2 separate regions of the Homo sapiens genome follow, and region 2 is linked to region 1. A link means that fine-mapping ties the variant in region 1 to the expression of a gene that starts in the linked region. Tissue or cell type: whole blood. Region 1 holds a variant in brackets; the other region holds the start of a gene. All regions are shown on one strand. Distances are between the middles of the regions.

Region 1 (8,175 bases):
ACGGCACCCTCAGTCTCTGCATGTGGCTCTCTCTACTGGAATTTGGGAGGCCAGGGCAAGCATCTCCCTTAGGCTCCCCCGACAGCATGGGGAGACCTCAGCCCTCCCACCAGCCTGAGCGGTCCCAAGCTCAGCCGCTAGCCACAAGCCCCAGGTTTGCTGCCCAGGCCCAAGCTACCCACGGGCAGTGAGAAAGGTACCATCTCCCAGAATGGGACCCTCTTGCCTGTGTGGTCAGTGCCCTTTCTCCTGGATACAGACCTTCCTGAGCAGCCAAAACTTCCTTCTCGCCCGACGGGCAAGGAGACCTGAGGATTAACCGCATGCTTAGCAGCTTCCTGGAGGCCCCCCCTTGGAACTGGAAATAGTCCTGGATACCATGATTGAAGCAACTTCAGGCTGTACTGAGCCCACGCCTGGCTCTGGGGTTGCCCTCCTCTGCACCTCCTGTCTGGTCACCTCTTGCTTTTCCTATGCTATGCAGCCAAGCAGGTGACCAGGAAGGCCTCTCACCCAGAAGCCACCTGGCTCCTGCTACCCACTGTGCACTTGTTCCAGGTGCATTCCCAAGGGCCGACTTCCTTGGTTCATTTTGACAAACTTTGAGGTTGCTCGTCATAGCCCTTAAGAATGGAGACAAACACCCTCCCTCCCCCATTTTCCAACCCCCGATGTACACGGGCAAAAAACAGAAGCTCAGAGAGGGTGAGGACTTTCCACAGAGTCACACAGCTGGTGAAGTCGCTGGTCTAAGCCTTTAACTAGGGCCAACTTGACCCTTCACCTGCCTGCCTTTTCCCACCCCTGCCCTCCCTACAGGTGCTGTCTGCATGTAGAATCTTTCAGGCCCAGATTCAGGATGTCCAGCTGAGTGTGGGAAGGGTGGTGTGGTATGGGCCCAGCCACATGGTAGCTGAAAGGCTCTGGGGCCAGGGGGTCCTAGCTCCCAGCCCCGCCCCTTAGAGCCTCACCAGGGACTCAAGTCTATTGACACAAGGGCCAGCACCTGTCACGAGGTCATCTTCCCTAACATATACTTTCATTTAGGGGCAAAGAACTTCTCTTTTTGTTATTTTGCATTAAAATAACCAAGATTCATCCAGACGTGGTGGCTCACACCTGTAATCCCAGAACTTTGGGAGGCTGAGGTTGGAGGATTGCTTGAGTCCAGGAGTTAGAGACCAGCTTGAGCAACATAGTGAGACTCCATCTCTACATAGAATTTTAAAAACTTCCAAAGAATTAAAAAATATATATTAGCCAGGCGTGGTAGCATGTGCCTATAGTCCCAGCTATTGCGAGGCTGAGGATCACTTGAGCCTGGGAGGTCGAGGCTGCAGTGAGCCCTGACTGCACTACTGCACTTTAGCCTGGGAGACAGAGTGAGACCCTGTCTGAAAATAATCAAGATCAACCCTGGACAGAAAGGAATTGCTAGAGTAATACCCTTTGACCTGAAATGCTGTGGGGTCTAAGGTGCTGCCTTCCCCTCCGCCCTGTGTGCTAGTCCTTGTATGTTAAGACTCAGTAGTTCCCCGTATCCCAGTAAAAAGGCAGGGGTGGGATGATGGGTACACTAAAATCCCATTCCCCACCAGCACACAATATACTCAGGTAACAAACATGCGCATGTACCCCTTGAATCTAAACTAAATTAAATTTTAAACAAACGCAAGGGTGTGACCTGGATGGAGTGGTACAGTCATCCCCTGGCACCAAGCAGCCCATTAGCCCAGAATGGTTATCTGATCAGATGCCTGTCTCCTATGGACCTATGGGAGCTGGACACAGGGAAGGAGCCTTTGATGCCGTGGAACAAGGTGGAGGAATTGTCCATGCGAAGTGGCCCCTGAAGAACTGGTACGAAGGGGTTGGCTGCAGTGGTTTGAGAGTCAGGGACTGGGTTGGGGGCCTGGGCCTACAAGGCTTTCTAAGCCCCCTAGGACTGGGGACTTTGTCCTGGATGCTATGGGAGGCCACTGAATGGGGTGGGATAAGGGGCAGGAAGGATGGGTCCACAAGAAAACTGATCAGAGTGACTTTTTTTTTTTTTTTTGACACAAAGGCTTGCTCTGTTGCCAAGCTAGAGTGCAGTGGTGCAATCTCAGCTCGCTGCAACTTCTGACTCCCTGGTTCAAGCAATTGTCCTGCCTCAGCCTCCCGAGTAGCTGGGACTACAGTTGCGTGCCACCACGCCTGGCTAATTTTTGTATTTTCAGTAGAGACAGAGTTTCACCATGTTGGCCAGGATGGACTCGATCTCTTGACGTCATGATCCACCCACCTCAGCCTCCCAAAGTGCTGGGATTACAGATGTGAGCCACGGCACCTGGCCCAGATTGACTTTTAAAAGCAGGACCCAGGGCCGGGTGCAGTGGCTCACACCTGTAATCCCAGCAGTTTGGGAGGCTGAGGCGGGCAGATCACTTGAGGTCAGGAGTTTGAGACCAGCCTGGCAAACATGGTGAAAACCCGTCTCTACTAAAAATACAAAAATTAGCCGGGTGTGGTGGCGCGTGCCTATAGTCTCAGCTACTCAGGAGGCTGAGGCAGGAGAATTGTTTGAACCCGGGAGGTGGAGGCTGCAGTGAGCCAAAATCACATCACTGCACTCCAGCCTGGGCGAAAGAGTGAGGCTTCATCTCAAAAAATAAAAATAAAAATAAAAAATGAAATAAAAAATTCTGGCCAATAAAACAACAACAAAAAAGATCCTGGAACCCTTCTTTCTCCTTCTTGCTCCCTCTCTTGCCACATGACATGCCTGCTCCTCCTTCCCCTTCTGCCACGAATGGAAGTTTCCTGAGGCCTCACCAGGAGCAGGTGCTGGTGTCACGCTTCTTGTACAGCCTGCAGAACCGTGAACTAAATCAACCTCTTTTCTTTTTAAATCACTCAGCCTCCAGTATTTCTTTATGGCAATACAAAATGGACTCAGACACTCCTTGATCTCAAACGTCCCAGCTTTCAGAACGGTGAAGCATAACTGTTCATTGTTCAAGCCCTGGCTCATGGTATTTTGTTATGGTGGCCTGAGCTAATACAGGAGGCCGGCTGGGGGCCTGGCCCTTGAGAGATGGGGGAGGCTTAGAGCACAGCGGCAGGGGAGTAGGGAAGAAGCAGACAGGGTAGAAGACACATTCTGTAGTGACAGACCCACTCACTGGTTATGGTCTGGAGACTGGGATGGAAGAAAAAGGACCTCAGGAATGACTGCCAGGTTTCTGGGCTTGAGCTACAGGGGAGGTGGAGACACTATGTCCTGGGCAAGGAGTTTTGTTGTGGAAGTTCCAGCTCTGGAGCACTCCAGCCTTTAGAGGTCTGGTTAAGGAGAAGCCCAAGAGGTGGGAGGAAGACAGGAGGGTGGAGAGTCACTGAGACTGGTGCACAGTGTCTCCAGAAGCACGGAGCACCCCCTTTCAATGGCAACCTGGCTTTGTAGGACTTTTGACACGCTTACCCCCACCGGCTTTCCCCGCGCCTGCATGGCCTCTCTAACCATCCACATCCATGGTGAGGGTCCCTCCCTTGCCTGCCATTGCTCCATCCACCCAGTCCCCAACTCGGTAGATTTGTATTGTGTCCATCCTTTGAGGCTCTCCTCCACTCCCCCAGCTCCTGTCTCAGAGTCCCCCAGCCTCTTGGGTCCCCCTCTGTGTCTTGTGTAAGAGCTGAGTGTGCTCTTGTCTGTTTCCCAGGAGGTGAGCTCCTCACGTACAGGGGTCGCGCTGCCTCCTCCTCTGACTCCCTGGCTCTGAGCGAAGGCTCTGGCATCTGTAGCCATGAGAGGAATGTTTGCCGAGTGACCCCATGAGCGAGTGATGCCAGCATAAAGGCCAGTGCACCCAAGGCTGGCCCAAAATATCCTCTGGCAACCAGAGCCGCCCCGCCGGGGGATGCATTCTGCCTTTGAAAGTAGTGAGTAGCACATCCTTACAGGTACCCAAGAGGAGAAGGATTGGACACTATTCAGGGTGGAAATGGATGAGGGGATCCCTGCGATGGGGGAGAGGGTCTGACTACCCATCCCCTAAGGACAGTCCCTGGTCTGGGGCCTCCCAGCCTGAGAACGAGGCAGGAGCCACCACCATCGGAAGCTGTCAGATTCACAGTCATAATTCCAGAGTGTGACACTTAGTTAATCTGAAAATATTTGCTAACCTATTATGAATAACAATATTTGCAGCTTAAAATGCTTACCCTCCATAGCTCCAGAGTGTGAAGATGTGCTTCTACCCAGACAAAGATGTACTCACTACTATCCGAGCAAATTGACACAGGGAGCTTATGAGCCTAATTGTTGGCATCTCAGGCTGATTTGCGTCCCCTGGGGCCACTCTGATAACTTGGCTAAACAAATACAGGAGGTGCTGTAGGGACAGGCTCACAGGGCCAGAGGGCTCCATGGAGCCGGATGACGGGGAAGTATTTCAGGCCTCTCACCAGAACCTCCTGCTATGCTCTGAATGTCTGTGTCCTCCCAAAATTCATATGTTGAAATCCTAATTCCCTACGTGAGGGTATTAGGAGGTGGGGCCTTTGAAGGTGATTAGGTCATGAGAGCAGAGCCCACAGTAATGGGGTGAGTGCCCTTATATAAAGGACCCCAGGCTGGTTGTGGTGGCTCATGCCTGTAATCCCAGCACTTTGGGAGGCTGAGGCGGGAGGATCACTTGAGGCCAGGAGTTCAAGACCAGCCTGAGCAACATAGCAAGACCTCATCTTTAAAAATATATATATAAATAAATAAGTAAAAAGGATA[T/C]CAGAGAGCTCTTTGCCCCTTTTCTGCCATGTGAAGATACAATATGAAGTCTGCAATCTGTAACCTGAGAGATGGGGTTTCACCATGTTGGCCAGGATGATCTTGAACTCCTGACCTCAAGTGATCCACCTGTCTCGTCCTCCCAAAGTACTGAGATTACAGGTGTGAGCCACCACTAAATTTCTGTTTCTGATAAGCCACTCAGTCTACGGTACTTTGTCAAAATAGCCTGAACAGACTAAGGTACCCCCCTCACCCCATCTCATCACAGAGTCTCTGGACTTTTTTTCTTGGCTGCCTATATGGTTCTTAGGGTCATCTTCACAGTCAGCTACGGGGTGTGGCCAGGCCCCGTGGGTATGTGGTTAAGGTCATTGGCTAACATGGATGACCAAGGCCATTGCAGTTCCCAGACACTGAGAGGCTCCACACACTTGTGGATGGGGGTCTGTCTTTCCTGAGGAAGGGTCAATGGCCAGCTCGAGGCTGTGTCCACAGATAAAGATGTTTGCACAGAATGTGGAGCCCAGAGGAGACAAGGATCTATCAAGGGCCTCCCAGGAGCTTGTGCCAGAATGTGCAACTCAAGCCAGTGTTGGCATGAAGGAAACTTGGCGTAACTGCAGAGACCACGGCTTCTTCAGAGCCTCACATCTCCTGTGTTGGTGCCATCGCAGCTGCACAGCCCCCAGCCCTAACACCCAGGACACCTGAAGCAAGAGCCCTTTCCTGTGGCTCCAGCTGAAATCCAGGGGCCCCTTTCTCTCCCTAGCCCAATTCATGCCCCCTCTAAACCTTTGCTGTGGCCAGGGTTTAGAGGGGGCATTGCTGGCCCCACCCAAGAGGCAAGGTCTGAAAGTGGAGAAAGACGGATTCCCCAAGACTAGCTGGGATGCTCTTACAAGAATGACAGAAAAGAGATGCTGGGGCTGGATGCAGTGGCTCACACCTGTAATCCCAGCATTTTGGGAGGCCAAGATGGGTGGATCACCTGAGGTCAGGAGTTCGAGACCAGCCTGGTCAACATGGTGAAACCCCATCTCTACTAAAAATACAAAAATTAGTCGGGTCTGATGGCAGGCGCCTGTAATCACAGCTACTTGGGAGGCTGAGGCACGAGAATCACTTGAACCCGGGAAGTGGAGGTTGCAGTGAGCTGAGATAGTGCCACTGTACTCCCACTGGGGCAACAGAGTGAGACTCCGTCGAAGAAAGAAAAAAAAAAGAAAAGAAAAAAGAAAAAAGAGATGCTGGGCAGGAGAAAAGCCTCCCTTGAGGGAAAAGAGAAGGAAAGGACCAACTGCCTTGGCCCATTCAGTGATCTGGCCATGAAACCAGGGGCTGGCTGAAATGTCATTGTCCAAGAAAAGGTGCTGGCTGTGCACAGTAGCTCATACCTGTAATCTCTGCACTTTGGGAGGTTGAGGCAGGCAGATTGCTTAAGCCCAGGAGTTTGAGACAAGTCTGGGCAACATAGCAAGACTCTGTCTCTACAAAAAATAAAAAAAAGTAGCTGGGTGTGATGGTGCACACCTGTTGTCTCAGCTACTCCAAAGGCTGGGGTAGGAAGATCACTCAAGCCCAGGATATTGAGACTGCAGTGAGCTATGATTGCACCACTGCACTCCAGCCTGGGCAACAGAACAAGACCCTGACTCTTAAAAAAAATTTTTTTTAAAAAAGAGAGGTGCTGGTGACCATGATAGACAGCGATTCAGAGCAGAGAGAGAGGAGGCCCAAATAGCTTAGTCCTGTCCACAGTGGCAGAGGAAATGGGAGAATTAAGGCAATTTCAATGAAAACAACAATTTTAAAAAAAATGCCCCACCCAATGCTTATACCTCAATTATCTAGATTTGCTCAAGCAGGAATTATCAGAATAACTTAGGAAAAGCTTCTTTTGGGAGTAAGGACAAGAGGGCAATCGTGGCCAGGCACGGCAGCTCATGCCTGTAATCCTAGTACTTTGGGAGGCTAAGGTGGGTGGATCACTTGAGATCCAATCATTTGAGATGAGGAGTTCAAGACCAGCCTGGGCAATAGGGTGAGACACTGTCTCTACTAAAAATACAAACAATTCTCCAGGCATGGTGGCACATGCCTGTAGTTCCAGCTACTGGGGAGCCTGAGGCACGAGAATCACTTGAATCTAAGAGCCTAGATGGTGCCACTGCACTCCAGCTTGGGTGACAGAGCAAGATCTGTCTCAAACAAACAAACAAACAAAAAAAACCAAAGGATGACTGACCTGTGTCAACATCCAGAGTTCCCATCTCAGCTATGTGCACAGGAAGGGCCAGTCTTTCTCCTTTACTCTCATTCACTCTACAGATGCCTACCGGGTACCTGCCAGGTGGGCCAGGCCCTGTTCTCACCACTGCTCTGAATGGTCACCACAGAGAATGGTCTCCCTCCTCTCAGGGAGCCCATGTTCTGCTTGGGGAAGGCAGCCAACAAGATCTAAAGCGTCGCTGAGTGACAGGGACATGTCCTGTGAAATGCATGGAGAGGTGATGTTGTCATTGTGTGGACGTCACAGAGTGCACTACACAAACCTGGATGGGGTTGCCTACTGCACATCTAGACTGCATGGTGTGGCCTGTGGCTCCTAGACCACAGACCCAGACAGCACGTTACTGCGCTGAATGCCGCAGGCAGCTGGAACCCAGTGGTTAAGTATCTGTGTACCTAAACAAATCTCAACTTAGAAAAGGTACAGTAAAAATATAGTATTATCATTGATGGGACCACTGTCACCACTGCACACTGCCTTTGACCCAAACATTATTCGGTGCATGGCCATCGATGATGGAGATTGCGATTCGTGTACTGGAGAAAATAAAGCGAGGTGGGCTGAGAGTGGGAGGCCCGCAGGGCAGGGCACTTTGGATCAGGTTGTCAGGAAATGCCTCCCCGAAGAGGGCGCATTTGCAATTAAAGCCAAGTGACAAGAAAAAACTGCCATGCACAGATCTGGGGTCTAGAGGGTGGGGCAGGAGGGACAACAAGAGCAAAGGCACTGGGGACGGAAGGGCTTCATGGGCAGTGGGAGCCCCACGGGAGCCCCCTAGGTCTGGCTTGCAAGCTCTCTGGCCCTCTGCTGGACACCCCAGAGCAAGCCAGCCCCTGCCTGGGACTCCCTGAACACACTGCCCCCAGAGAACCACAGGCAGAGGGACTGGCTCACCTGAGTTCCACAGGAAAGACAGACTGTCCTGAGAACAGACACTCGCTCATTTTCATCACTGTTCCTCAAACAAGTAGATTTTGTTTTAAAGCAAACAAATAAACAGCGTTGTCAAGTTGGTCAAGTTTGTTGTTTCTTACCCAAACTTCCCCTTTAAATCTTCGGCAGGACAGAGGAGGACCCTGGGCTTCTTGTCAATTCTCTGACTTCAAGGAAGAGTCTGATC
Region 2 (8,175 bases), 70 kb after region 1:
GTTAGGCCGGGACAGAAGCACCCTTTCACTGGTTTTCATCCTTCCCACCTTGGTGGCTTTACACAGCAGTGTGCGCTGGTTCTGAGCAGGAACCAAGCCTTGGGGAGCATGGGTTGGGCCCTTGCCTGGCTGGCTGGGGGGCCTGTGCAGGCAGATTGTCCCGCCCAGGGAGGACAGGAGCCAAGCCTCCAGGGCTTTCCCATGCTCACGTTCCCTGGCGCTGGGCCGCAGACACTCTGTGGTTGACAGCCTGGTCCTGTTCATCTTGCCCGGCTCCCACTTCACAGCTCACACTGGTATAGTGTGGCCCCCTCCTCTTCTAGTATTTCCATGTGTAGCCTCACAAGATAACTGGCTCATCCAGGTGGCCACAGATGTCCAGCTTGGCCCCACAGCAAGGCCTTAGCCAGCTCCACTGCCAGCCACAGCCCACACCTTCCCTGATCAACCTTTGCTAGCAGCGGGGCTCTTTAATTGTCCGCTAAGACGCCTTTGAGGACCTGGTAGAAGTTAGGCTCCAGCTGCCTGGGGAAATGCACATGGGCCCAACAGTAGGCAGGCTCCTGGGTCTCCAAAGGCTGTCCAGGGATCCCATGTTAAGGAATCCTATCTGGGAAGGACTTCCCCCTTGCAATCCCTTGGTCTTCCTTCTCCTTAACCTTTATGTCCTGGTGCCCGTCCTCCATCATCAGAGCCTGAACCATATAGGAAGCTAAGCAAATAACCCCCAAATCTCTTTATGAGTAATAACAACACAAATTGAGCAGTTACCTTGTGCCAGATACTGTTGAAAACACTTGAGGGGTATTAATACATTTACCCCTCACCGCAACCCCATGACGTTGGGACAATTAGAATTATACCCATTTTACAGATGAGAAGATTAAAGCACAGAGAGGTTGGAGAACCTTCCCAAAGTCTCATAGCAAAGGGGAGGTGTTGCCCTCCCTACACAGCAGCTGGTTCACCACCTCTGATGCAATCCACAGTCTCCCTCAAGGCTGGGCCAATGCTCGGGAGCTCTGGACTTGAGGCAAGCACAGAATGGAATGAACCCAAACACCCAAAGGTGAGCTGCCCTAGAAAGGCGGACATTGGGCCGGGTGCGGTGGCTCATGCCTATAATCCCAGTACTTTGGGAGGCCCAGGTGGGCGGATCACCTGAGGTCGGGAGTTTGAGACCAGCCTGGCCAACATGGTGAAACTCCATCTTTACTAAAAATACAAAATTAGCCAGGCATGATGGCACATGCCTGTAATCCCAGCTACTTGGTAGGCTGAGGCAGGAGAATCGCTTGAACCCAGGAGGCGGAAGTTGCAGTGAGCTGAGATCGCGCCATTGCACTCCAGCCTGAGCAAAAAGAGCAAAATTCCGTCTCAAAAAAAATAAAAATGAAAACAAAAGACATCAGTGGTTTCTGAAGACTCCAAGCTGCTGTATAGGCTGTGTCTGCCATCTTGGACACAACTTTTCTATTGTTCCTATTAAATGTGTTCATCCTTCTGGCTTACATGCCATTTTCTTCATGCAAACTTCTTGCCATCCAAGGATGGGTTGGATACATCCTTCTCCACATGAAGTCATAGCCCCAAGACTCTTCCCTTCCCAGCCCTATCATGCTACACTGCAAATGCATGACAGCCTCCCTTCCACACCGGAAGCTCCCAAGAGGGCAGGGATTGTGTCTTGCTTTGCTATGTCTTGAATTAAAAAATAATAATAATAATTATTGGCTGGGCGCAGAGGTTCACACCTGTAATCCCAGCACTTTGGGAGGCCAAGGAGGGAGAATCACTTGAGGCCAGGAGTTTGAGATCAGCCTGGCCAACATAGTGAAACACTGTCTCTATTAAAAATACAAAAATTAGCCGGGCGTGGTGGCAGGCGCCTATAATCTCAGCTACTTGGGAGGCTCAGGCAGCAGAATCGATTGAACCTGGGAGGCGGAGGTTGCAGTGAGCTGAGATAGCGTCATCACACTCCAGCCTGGGCAACAAGAGCTAAACTCCGTCTCAAATAATAATAATAATAACAACAATAATAATAAGGCCGGGCACAGTGGCTCACTCCTGAAATCCCAGCACTTTGGGAGGCCAAGGCGGGCGGATCACGAGGTCAAGAGATGGAGACCATCCTGGCCAACATGGTGAAACCCCGTCTCTACTAAAAATACAAAAATTAGCTGGGCGAGGTGGCGCATGCCTATAATCCCAGCCGCTCGGGAGACTGAGGTAGGAGAATCACTTGAACCCAGGAGGCAGAGGTTACAGTGAGCTGAGATCGCGTCATTGCACTCTAGTCTGGACGACACTCTGTCTAAAAAATAAATAATAATTATTATTATTATTTAATTTTTATTGAGTAAAAGATACATTCAGTAAAGTGCACAAATCCTAGGTGTGAACTTTTATGTATGTATCAATCAATGAGCTTTTATGTATGTATACAGTCATGAAACCACCACTCAGATCAAAGCATACATGTCTAGCCCCTAGAAGTTTCCCCTGGTCTCCTCCCGGTCATTACTCCTCACCCTAGGGGTAAATACTGTTACGGTGACTGCTGTCTTTTCTTAAACTTCAAATAAATGGAAACTTCAAATAAGTGTGTCTGGCTTCTTGGGCTCAACATGTTGTCTCTGAAATTCTCATGTTGCTGCATGATTCCTTGGTTTGTCCTTTTTATTGCTGTGTGGTATTCCATTGAATTAATATAACAACATTTATGTATCCATTCTATTCTTGATGAACATGTCAGCTAGGATGTGGAGGATTTGGGCTCTATCTTTGCTGGTGGGTGTATACATTGCTGTAATGACTAAGGAAAACTGTCTTGTCTACCATCATTATAATAACTCATTTAGTGAGCATTTACTGTGTGCCAGGTACTGTACAGGAGTCAGCTACATTATCTCAATCTTCACAATGATCCTTGGGAGTAGATAGTTGCCATCTGTGAAACAGGATAATTGTGGCATCAACATGAATAGGATTATTGTGAAGTTTAATTGAGATGATACTTTGAAGGACTTAGCCCAGTGCTGCCATTTTGGAAACACTGTTTATGATACCTGTTACTGGTGATTCCTAACGGGCACAGGATGGGGGGTTCAGGTGCCTGGGTCCCTGCTGAGCAAGTAGCCCAGCAGCCTTGGCCTCAGAGCACCTGGGGGAATCATGAATTTGTGAGCCTCTTTGATAAGACCCTGGCTCTAACTTCAAGAAAACGGTCACTAGGGGAGGGTGAGGGACAGGACTGAGACTTTAGCTTAAGAAGGGCCCTGGGAGCATTCCAGAGCCTTCTTTTACGCACATCTTCCTGAAGCTGAGTACAGAGGGTACTCTGAGGTGATGACTGTTCCTTACCTGTCTCTCTCATTAGCCGGTAAGCCCTGCAAGGGCTTGGCCAGTGCCTGTCTTTCAAATGTTCATTCAGAAACAATTTAAGTGTCTCCCTTGGTCCAGGCACTATGCCAAGAACTGACAGATACAGCAGTGAGCAAGATGGGCAAGGTGGGGAGAGAGACAAGAAACAGAGAGGCACCAAGACTGTGTAGGGGCTGGGCTCCCAGCACTTTGGGAGGCCAAGGCGGGAGGATCGCTTGAGCTCATGGGTTTGAGACCAGCCTGAGCAACATAGCAAGACCCTATCCCTACCTGCCACCCCCCACCCCCCGCCACAATAAAAAATACAAGTCTTGAGGGAGAAAGGACAGAGGAGCTGTGGAGAGGAGGCCTGAGGTCTGAGGGTGGGGGATCAGGGTCAGGTCCTGTGGAGCCTGTAGCCTAGGACACGGAGTGTGGATTTGACCCTTATGCGAAACAACTGGAAGGCTTTTTGTTTCTTTTTCTGTAGAAATGGGGGTCTCACTGTTACCCAGGCTGGTCTCGAACACCCCAAGGGATCAGCCGTCTCGGCCTCCCACAATGCTGGGATTAAAGGCGTGAGCCACCGCGCCCGGCCTCAACTGGAAGGCTTTAAGTGAGAGATGGGGTGCAAGGGAATCCCAGAGTCAGAAAGGTCTTCAGAGAGCCAGGAAGGGCTTGCGGGGGAGGGGCGCATATGGAAGGGGCGCATGGAAGGAACTCACAGATTCCTTGAATGAATGAATGAACGACCCAATGCACTGACGGATGAATGGACAGGCGGCCAGGAATAGCAGCCGGCCCCCAGGGAGCCCCAGACCCCGCGGCCTGAAGCCTTGGTTCTAGGCCAAGGCACAGGCGCGGTGACCTTGGGGATGTCCCCGCCCAGGACTCAGGGCCCGGAACTCGGCGTCTCGGGGGCGGGGAGGGCGTGCCTGGCGGGACAGCGCGCGCGGAGGAACGGCGGGCGGTGCTCCTCGGGTAGGCCCCCCACACATCCCCTTGGCTCAGCCCTGCCGGGGCCCGAACCCGCGCCGCCCGCCGTGTTTACATTCCACCCGCGCCAGCCACGCGGCTTTTTGCCGCTCCAGCGCCGCTCGGCCCCGCCCCCGGCGCCCGCGGCCCGCCCCTCGCCGCCGCGCGCCAGACTTCTCCCGCGTCCCGCCCGCCGCCCCGCCCCGCGTCCCGCGCCCCGCGCCCCGCGCCCGGCCCTCGGCGCGCAGGCCCTGTCACTTGGCCCCGCCCTGTCCGCCGGCCCCGCCCCTGATTCCCCGTCCCTGCGCCTCGCGGGCCGGCGCCGTGGAGGGGCGGGTCCGGGGGCGGGGCGAGGGACGGGGCGGGACGGGCTCTGGGTCCCGCGCGGCCGCTGAGGGGCTGGGAGCCGCGGCGGGGCGGTGCGAGGGCGGGCCGGGGCCGGTTCCGCGCGCAGGGATTTTAAATGTCCCGCTCTGAGCCGGGCGCAGGAGCAGCCGGCGCGGCCGCCAGCGCGGTGTAGGGGGCAGGCGCGGATCCCGCCACCGCCGCGCGCTCGGCCCGCCGACTCCCGGCGCCGCCGCCGCCACTGCCGTCGCCGCCGCCGCCTGCCGGGACTGGAGCGCGCCGTCCGCCGCGGACAAGACCCTGGTGAGTCTACTGCCGCGGGCTGCGGACAGGGACTCCTGGGGCCCAGACCGCGCCGGGGAGCTGGGTGGGGGCGGGGTGCGGCCGGGTCGCGGGTCCCCGGGCGGCGTCGCGGGGCGCCCGGGAGGGTGCTGAGAGCGCGGCGGGGTGGGGTGGAGGGGACACTGAGGCAGCCCGGGCCCCGGGAGGCGACGGGCCGGTGAGGGCGGCGGGGGCGGCGGGACCCCGGGTCGGGGGTCGGCGGGTGCCCGGGTCGCGGGTGACAGGCCACCCCGCCATCGGCCATCTTCCTGGCTCGCCCGGCCGCCCGCGCGCAAAGGGGGAAGGGGTACTGGGCCCGCGGCCTGACCCCGCCGCCGCCTCACCCCGCGCCGCCCCGCAGGCCTCAGGCCGGAGCAGCCCCATCATGCCGAGGGAGCGCAGGGAGCGGTGAGTGCCCGCGCCGCGGGGCCGGACGGGACGGGACGGGACGGGACGGGTGGCGTGGGGGAGGGGCGGCCGCGGGTGCTCACCCGGCCCGGTGCCACCCGGGTCCACAGGGATGCGAAGGAGCGGGACACCATGAAGGAGGACGGCGGCGCGGAGTTCTCGGCTCGCTCCAGGAAGAGGAAGGCAAACGTGACCGTTGTGAGTACAAAAGAGACAGGTTGGGGAGCATCCCCCCCATCTCACCTGGGTACCCGACTTGGCTCTGCCTACGGGGGCGGGGGTCCCTTGGGCAGGAACGGAGCTCATAACCTGATCAGCTTTCTCTTCTTCTCTCTGTTTTTGTCTTGTTTGGTGTGTTTCCTTGGGGTCATGGGGGTGGCTTCATGTTAGTTTTTGCAGGATCCAGATGAAGAAATGGCCAAAATCGACAGGACGGCGAGGGACCAGTGTGGGAGCCAGGTAGGTCCGCCCGGGGTTGGGCCTCTGTGGAGGTCCTTCTCCCCCTGGGTCACATGGGGTTTCATGCTGTCTTGTCTCTTGCTGGAGACACTCTGGTGAGAGTGAACTTCTCTAATGCAGCCACAGCCCATATGGCCCAGCACTGTACCTGTCAGTGGGCACTGGCCTCTGCCAGTCCTGGGATTCCAGGAAGCTTGGTGTTCCTGACTGGCACCGTCTGAGATTACAGATATGTGCCTAGCCTGGAAGAACCAGAATGGACATCACAGTATTCAGTCCTCCCCTTCTGCCCAGGAGGAAACTGAGACTCAGTTAGAGGAAGAAAGTAACCCAGAGTCCTGTGCCATCCAGGGGCAAAGTTGGGCTCTCGGCCTTGTCTGTAAAAGCTGGTGAACTGGGGGAGGGTTCCTGGGTGTTTATAAGCAACAACTTTCCCCCTATCTACACCTATTTTTCTTGTCATGGTGTTTAAGGACCTCCTCCGTCTTCTGTAGGTCAGATTTCAAATTCTTCTCCTCTTTCTGGCCCTGGAAGTTCTTATAGCCCCTCCAGCAATTACCTGCATTGATCCCCAGCTCAGCCTGACCTCAGCAAGAGTATCAGTGGAACATTCAGTGTAATGATAGGTGGTGTCTCAATACATTTTTTTTTGACTGCTTTTCTTTTCTCTCCTTAAGGAGTTCCTGCCAAATTTCCTGCATGCAGTGTGATAATCATTATAATATCAGAAGTTTCTTGCAGAAAAAGCTTGTACTATCTCTTTACTTTCAGAAATGGCTGGAGACTGTAGTTATGGCTCCAGTGGGGGAAGCAGCCTATCTCTAAACTAGCTGGTCAGGCCTTCTGACTCTATCACAGATAAACGCTGAACAGAAACAGTGTTCGACCTGAGTGCAGGGATCCCAGCTAGGTTAGCAGAGAAGCCCCTCACTTTGCAGAGCAGCAGCCAGGGTAGTTCATCTGGAAGCGTGAAGGGTTTCAACGCAGTGCGCCGTGTTCTAAATAGCAGTTGTCACTGCATGTAAGGTCCCCCGAAATAAGCATTTCTGAGGAGGGTCCACTGACTATTGAAGAAAGGGTTGCTGATTTCCTTTTTCATTCAAAGAAATCATTTCAGAGACGGAAATGAGACGGCATATCCCCAGTTTTTTTTTTCTTCCCTTAAAGTACATTCAAATCAAGCAAGTTGATTTTTTAGGTATTATAAAATGAATTCTGACTTTGTGAAATTCAGGACTGTTTATTTTCCCAGCTGTGTTTTGAATAGAAAAGAAACTTCCAGCTGAAGATGAAGCAGGGCCGTCCCTGTTGCATTCTTGGAGTTTTAGAAGCATGTCTGTTCTCAAGGATAGCCTGAGCAGTGACGAGGGTGCCTCCTGGGACGGATTGTGGCTCTGTCCCCTGGCCACAGTGTGGATAGCTGTGCTGCCGGAATAGCCATACCATTTCCCACTAGAAGGCATTTTCGTGGTTATCCAGAGATTAATGGCGACAGATTTCTATACGTTTTGTAGAGTAGATAGCTTAAACATTAGCTGTCTATGTATGGAGCAGTATCTTTGTTATTTCTTTGTGGAGCTTCATGAAACTAGAACTTGGGGGTACAACAGAACCTTTTTCCCTGCTCACATACAGAATTTTTCTCTGGAGTTATCATAATTCCCCCCAGTACGACAGTCTTGAGCTACTTGGAGCCATTGTGCCAAACTCTTGTGTAACTGCTTCATCGAGACCACATGGAAGCTTTTTAATTTTCATCTTAGGCTGTTCTTAATGAAAAGAATACCCTTTTATCTAAGATCTACTTAACACGTCCATTTTGTTGTTTAATTTTTTTGCACAAGACTCAATCTTTCTATTGAAGTGGAATCCTGGACTGTTACTTTTCAGAAAATAATCCTATGTAAGGAAAAAAGTGGTATGAGGAGTTGGAGTGGTTAGGAATCCCGTGGGTCTCTTATTGTTATCTCATTCTTTCCTAAATAAAGTCAGACAGATCTTGCTTTGAAACTTGGTGTACACTCAAGGACATAGACTTAATTATTCTACCTCATCCACTGGTCCCTAAAAAGGCCAACTTTGGAAACCATTTGTCTGCTGATGGTTCACCTAGTTTGGGAACTGCTGCTGGACTCATCTATGTCCAAAGGCCTGCTCTCAGATGTGCCAGCCATCTGGCTGTAGAGGGTGGCACCCAGCATTATGCCTTCAAGACTAGAATTCATTCTTCCTGAATGAAGAACAACTTACAGCGGTTGTAATGTGACCCTTTTTGAGTTAAGGAAATGCCACCCGCACATG

What was found. PIP is the estimated chance that this variant, and not a neighbour inherited with it, causes the effect.
Region 2: CCNE1 starts here. The variant in region 1 is fine-mapped to the expression of CCNE1 in whole blood (TOPMed, PIP above 0.99).

Annotation. Positions count from the first base shown.
Region 1 is chr19:29,737,625-29,745,799 of GRCh38, forward strand. No RefSeq gene overlaps it. Among named protein-coding and RNA genes, the nearest start is that of C19orf12, 26 kb to the left of the region's middle. RefSeq lists enhancers at 7,280-7,781, 7,782-8,175. The variant T/C (reference allele first, on the strand shown) is at 4,763.
Region 2 is chr19:29,807,164-29,815,338 of GRCh38, forward strand. It overlaps CCNE1 (cyclin E1), which reads left to right and starts at 4,828. Exons shown (of 12, transcript NM_001238.4): 1 at 4,828-4,989; 2 at 5,369-5,415; 3 at 5,526-5,613; 4 at 5,806-5,874. The coding sequence starts at 5,393. RefSeq lists silencers at 4,282-4,911, 8,075-8,175.